Linked DNA regions of Homo sapiens. The protein of the gene in region 1 interacts with the protein of each later gene in a pairwise test. Each region holds a gene or a part of one and is shown in the gene's direction. Other genes may lie near its edges.

What was found. The genes of interacting proteins can lie anywhere in the genome.
Region 2: the proteins of AKAP8L (region 1) and DMRT3 interact in binary tests that used the Homo sapiens proteins (3 or more experiments, as listed by UniProt).

The regions. Positions count from the first base shown.
Region 1 is NC_000019.10:15,412,436-15,416,091, reverse strand, and holds part of AKAP8L (A-kinase anchor protein 8-like), read left to right. Parts: intron 1-3,656. UniProt on the Homo sapiens protein: Could play a role in constitutive transport element (CTE)-mediated gene expression by association with DHX9. Increases CTE-dependent nuclear unspliced mRNA export.
Region 2 is NC_000009.12:989,304-992,248, forward strand, and holds the end of DMRT3 (doublesex- and mab-3-related transcription factor 3), read left to right. Parts: intron 1-737; coding exon 738-1,702; 3' UTR 1,703-2,429; downstream 2,430-2,945. UniProt on the Homo sapiens protein: Probable transcription factor that plays a role in configuring the spinal circuits controlling stride in vertebrates.

The DNA.
Region 1 (3,656 bases):
ACTTTGGGAGGCCGAGGCAGGAAGATTGCTTGAGGCCAGGAGTTTGAGATGAGCCTGGGCAACATAGCAAGACCCTTTCTCTATAAAAATTAAAAATAAAAAAGTTAGCTCTGCGAGGTTGAGGCTGCAGTGAGCCATGATTGTGCCACTGTGCTCCAGCCTGGATGACAGCGAGACTCTGGGATTTTTTTTTTGTTTTTTTTTTTGAGACGGAGTCTTGCTCTGTCACCCAGGCTGGAGTGCAGTGGCGCCATCTCGGCCCACTGCAAGCTCCGCCTCCCAGGTTCATGCCATTCTCCTGCCTCCGCCTCCCAAGTAGCTGGGACTACAGGTGCCCGCCACCACACCCGGCTAATTTTTTGTATTTTTAGTAGAGACGGGGTTTCACCTTGTTAGCCAGGATGGTCTTGATCTCCTGACCTTGTGATCCGCCCTCCCTGGCCTCCCAAGGTGCTGGGATTACGGGCATGAGCCACTGCGCCCGGCTGACTGGGAGGTTTGCTGGAGCCCAGGAGTTCAACATTGCTGAGCTATGATCATGCCATTGCACTCCAGCCTGGGCAACAGAGCAAGATCCTGTCTCAAGAAAATATATACTCTTTTTTAAAAAGGAGAAAGGAAAAGTATAAAACTGAGAAGCATTTGTTTTGTTTTGTTGAGACAGGGTCTCACTATGTTGCCCAGGTTGGAGTGCAGTGGCACAAAATCATAGCTCACTGCAGCCTCGCCCTCCTGTGCTCAAGTAATCCTCCCACCTCACCTCAGCCTCCCAAGTAGCTGTGACTACATGTGCATGCCACCATGCCTGGCTAATTTTTTATTTCTGAGATGAGGTCTCACTATGTTGCCACGCAGGTCTTGAACTCCTGGGCTCAAGTGATCCTCCCAACTCAGCCTCCCAAAGTACTGGTATTACAGACATGAGCCACAGCATTTGGCCTGCTTTTGTATTTTTGAGCAAAAAAAGTTGACGAGAGATTGGTTAAAAGCAAGGAGTGTTGCTGCAGAACTAGAAATCCATGGTCTCAAAGTGAGAGGATTGCTTAAGCCCAGGAATTCAACACCAGCATGGGTAACATAGTGAGACCCTGTCTCTCAAAACAAAAAAAGAAAAAGAAAACAAAAATTAGCTGGGCCTGGTGGTGCGTGGCTATAGTCCCAGCTATACAGGAGACTGAAGTAGGAGGATCACTTGAGCCCCGGAGGCTGAGGCCACAGTGAGCAGTGATTGTGCCACTGCACTCCAGCCTGGATGACAGTGAGACCCCCTGTCTCTAATAAAAATAGAAAGAAAGAAATCCGTGGGCTAGGCGTGGTGGCTCACGCCTGTAATCCCAGCACTTTGGGAGGCCGAGGTGGGCGGATCACGAGGTCAGGAGATCGAGACCATCCTCGCTAACACAGCGAAACCCCATCTCTGTGAAAAATACAAAAAATTAGCCAGGCGTGGTGGCAGGTGCCTGTAGTCCCAGCTACTCAGGAGGCTGAGGCAGGAGAATGGCGTGACCCCAGGAGGCGGAGCTTGCAGTGAGCCAAGATCGTGCCACTGCACTCCAGCCTGGGCGACAGAGCGAGACTCCGTCTCAAAAACAAACAAACAAAAAAAAAAAGAAATCTGTGATCTAACATTTAGCTTTATAGGGCCATATAGGGCATATTTTATTTTTTTCAACCAGCGCTAATCAGGCTGATAAATTGTACCAAGAGAACACTTTACAAACCAGCTAAGAATTTAGGCCGGGCGTGGTGGCTCACGCCTGTAATCCCAGCACTTTGGGAGACCGAGGCGGGCAGATCTTCTGAGGTCGGGAGTTTGATACCAGCCTGACCAACATGGAGAAAACCCGTCTCTACTAAAAATACAAAATGCGTAGTGGCGCATGCCTGTAATCCCAGCTACTCGGGAGGCTGAGGCAGGAGAATCGCTTGAGCCTGGGAAGTGGAGGTTGCGGTGAACCGAGATCGCACCATTGCACTCCAGCCTGGGCAACAAGAGTGAAACTCCGTCTCAAAAAAAAAAAAAAAAAAAAAAGAATTATTCATAATAGGAGCCAAAACTGGCTACAGAAGGGCCTGCTCTGCGATCTTTGCAGATGGTATTGTGGAACAGAATGTTAATGTGGTGCAGGGTATAGAGTTAGAGCAGAGATTGCCATTGATCTTGGAGGGTTTGATGGATCGTCTTTCCTTCCTAGGGAAGCACCAGGGCCCCTCTCGCCTGAACAGACACAGATATTTTGCTCAGCAGCTTGCTGACTGTATCTTGTGAGGGTGTGGTAGGCTGTCATTTGCAGTTGCAGTACTCACAGATCACATTACCTAAAGTCTGAGGCCATTTTACTGGTGGCCCAATTGCTGAAAGAACAAGTTTCCAGAGGCCAGTTGAGCAAACAGTGGAGACCGCAGGGGCTGGGTATTCCTTACATTATAAGGCTTTCCCCTGGGTGAACTCTTCAAAGCTGCTCTCAGTGTTTCTTATGGACAGCTATTAATCAACAATGCCTGGATTTTAGGCATCTCAGGAAGGTCCAGATCCCTGGAAGGAATCCATTTGAATGGATTTCTAGCCTCTTTACTTAGGGAAGGTAGAAGACTGGATCTGTATACCCTCGGTTTTATCCTGCCTCAAGTCCCAGTCCCTACTCTGGAAAGTGAAGATGAAGCTGGGTTCACAGCTCCGTCTTTGGAACCCTTGGAGCTAGATGTATTTTGGAATTCTAGCTTAAGAGAAGTCACGTGGGGTCTGGGGAAGCACCTTGTATTTAAATAGATTAATTCTGCACTAAGTAGGACAAAGAAAGATTATAAATGTCCTTACAGGTGAAAACAGCTCCAGCGTGAGTTTTGGCACCACACTGGTAGAAAACACTTGGTGTTCAGACCCTTTTGGACCTGGGGGAATTGCAGAGTAAGGAATCTTGCCCACCTGCCCTTATTGTCTGTGGTGAGGATGAAATGAGATCATTGCAGATAAATGTTCTTAGCACCCTGCAGGGAAAGCACTTGTTTGCTGTTGGCTGCTGCTGCTGTGGTCTTAAGAGATAAAATAGAGACACTGTCAACAAATAAGAGAACGCTTACCCAGGGGGAAGGCACTTCTGTAGGTTTTTGATGTAAACAAGCTGTTAAAGGCATAGGCTTTAATTTTCAGGTCATGAGTTGGCTCTGATGGGAAAGGCAAATACTGCCTCTTATGGTATCTGTCGTAATTTCAGTGCTGAGAGAAAATTATTCAAAAATATGTATTTCTGGCCGGGCGCAGTGGCTCACGCCTGTAATCCCAGCACTTTGGGAGGCCAAGGCGGGCGGATCACAAGGTTAGGAGATCGAGACCATCCTGGCTAACATGGTGAAACCCCATCTCTACTAAAAATACAAAAAAATCAGCCGGACATGGTGGCACGCGCCTGTAGTCCCAGCTACTCAGAAGGCTGAGGCAGGAGAATCGCTTGAACCCGGGAGGTGGAGGTTGCAGTGAGCCGAGATCGTGCCACTGCACTCCAACCTAGTGCGAGACTCCGTCTCAAAAAAATATATATGTATTTCTAACTGTAGAGTTGTTGTTTTTTCTTTTTTTAATGTAGTTTTAAAGCAAGTGTCAGGATTAGCATCAGTCATAGTCTGTAGGAGCACTGGTTTCTGATAGAGGTAGAAGT
Region 2 (2,945 bases), on another chromosome or scaffold:
GCCACTTCCTTTTTTCCTCTCCAGCAACTTATCCTGCCATCCGGAATTCATAGCTGGTTTCGTTTGCTTTCTAGTACAAGTTATTGGCAACCAAGTTTGCCAATGCCTCAAGTGGCTTCTTATGAAAGATTTCAATGGATAGAGGTATCTTTCACTTCAGCAATTGAATTAGCTAGCTATTGTATATGGTAACCTGATGCAACTTACTGATTGGTTCATAAGACATATTTAACACAAAATCAGCCTATGGGAAAATAGATTTCAGATATTAAAATTCCCTGTGGGTATCTGGATGGTACTATCCCTAGATAACAGCTGGGGACCTTATTTGCAGAAGAGGAGCCGGAAGACAAGCTGAGCTGATTTTCCTGTTTCTCCCTGAGCTTTGCTCTTCCAGGAGTCCCCCACCCCTCCTCCCAAAGAGGCTCTCTATTGAGATTGTTACTGCTATGAAAGCCATATGTTACAGGTTCATGTAGCCATTCTATGTTGAAGGCAAGCTTCCTTGCACAAAGCATTCCAGGAAGCCACTCTGATTTCTAGATCTTTATTTACAGGGTTTTTGTTTCATTTGCCAGTGATATAGTTCGAATTTTTTTAAAAAGGCTTGTAGTATATTATGACCCATTGAGATGCATTTGCTCTTCCAAAAAGCACGTGTACAGGTCTCTTCTGAGCACATCTGCTCCTCTTTATGCACACCAGGAAAAGATTAACTCAGCTGTTCTGTTTTCCAGATTTGACTGAAGAACGACTTGGAGACGGCAAGTCGGCAGACAATACAGAGGTCTTCAGTGACAAAGACACTGACCAGAGGAGTTCCCCAGATGTGGCAAAGAGTAAGGGCTGCTTCACCCCTGAGAGCCCTGAGATAGTGTCCGTGGAGGAAGGGGGATACGCTGTCCAGAAAAACGGAGGCAACCCCGAGAGCCGCCCTGACAGCCCCAAGTGTCACGCGGAGCAGAATCACCTCCTGATTGAGGGCCCCTCGGGGACTGTTTCTCTGCCCTTCAGCTTGAAAGCCAACAGACCGCCGCTTGAAGTGTTAAAAAAGATATTCCCCAACCAGAAGCCAACGGTGCTTGAGCTCATCCTCAAGGGCTGTGGCGGGGACCTGGTGAGCGCCGTGGAAGTCCTTCTGTCCAGCCGATCCTCAGTCACGGGAGCAGAGCGAACTTCCGCAGAACCTGAGAGTCTAGCGTTGCCCTCCAATGGGCACATCTTTGAACACACCTTGAGCTCCTACCCCATCTCGTCTTCCAAATGGTCTGTGGGATCAGCCTTTCGAGTCCCAGACACGTTGAGGTTTTCTGCCGACTCTAGCAACGTTGTCCCCAGTCCCTTGGCTGGGCCTCTGCAGCCCCCTTTCCCCCAGCCACCCCGGTACCCGCTGATGCTGAGGAATACTTTGGCGAGAAGCCAGTCGAGCCCCTTTTTGCCCAATGATGTCACCCTGTGGAACACCATGACGCTGCAGCAGCAGTATCAGCTGAGGTCCCAGTATGTCAGTCCTTTCCCCAGTAACTCTACCAGCGTCTTCAGAAGCTCGCCCGTCCTTCCTGCCCGCGCCACGGAAGACCCTCGGATTTCCATCCCTGATGATGGGTGTCCATTTGTGTCAAAGCAGTCCATTTACACCGAGGACGACTATGACGAGAGGTCTGACTCCTCAGACTCTAGAACACTCAACACATCATCTTAAAGTGGTGCTGGATGGGTGGTGGCCAGGTGACATTTTCTGTGCGTTTTGACCCTGAGGCATCTGAGGAGAGGCCACATCTTGTGTATGCCCTTTCCTTCTGTTTGACAAAGTGACTGTGCTTGATTCTATACATTAGCAATAAAAACATAACTTATTTAACTTCTTGCACTTCACTGGAAAATGCCAAATAGCTCTGTTCTGTGGCTTTAGTGCTGAATGTTTATTGTAAAAGAGAGTCTAATGTTAAGAATAGTCTTGGGAAGGCTGGGTCCGTGGAAGATTTATTTGGGGATGTAAAGCTGAAGGTCAGCCTTGCACCTAAACCCAACCTGGAATGTTAAATGAAATAATATACTTGAATGCAATTTTGTAAAAGTGGATTCCTCAGGATATGTGAAACCTAAAGGAAGTGGTTCTGTTGCAAATGGACTATAAACAGGGACATTATATTCTTACACTAAAAATCCTTGCATTTTAAAGAGAGATGCACTTAAGAATAGAGTGAACTGCTCATATGCTTATTTAAGCTTGGACAGTTTTCAGAGACAAACCCCATTAAGAATTACTCTTTTCACATGGCTGAATCGAAACATGTGTAATGTCAATGTAAAACCAATCACAGCTGTGAACTGCATGAAATGTATTGTGAAACGAACACAAGATTAAGCTTTGTCAGGTTAATGTAGCATGTTAAGGACTCTAGAAAAAAATAAACTAAGGAGACGAGCGTGGTTTATGTCATTTCTACTTGTGGAAAGAGGATCTCTAAAAATAGAAACTTGATGTAAAAATGACTTTTACTAACGCATGGGCCAGGAATCAAATTATCAGTTAAATGAGACATTCCTGAGAAATATGAATGGCAAAGTTTTAGGGTTGCATTCAGAAAGATAATTTGTTCAAAATGGAGTTAATTCTCTCCATCCATTCACTTATTCAACAGATACTTACTGAGTGCCTACTATGTGTAAGAGAATGTGCTTTCCATGTATTGTCCAAGTTACCTACCCGTGAGTCCTAGATAAGCAGATATTTTAGTGGAGAATCCCATTGAAAACAAAGTAAAAATGGAAAACTCCCAACAATGTATAGTTGAGTGTGGGAAGCAAGGAAAGTGCTTAGCCCAGTACCTGACATAGGAAGTATGCAGTCCATGAAAACTACTGCTTCTATTAATGAAATTCAGTAGCCTTGCATTCAGAATATAGACGTGCATTCCTTCATTCTTACTTGGAGACCATGC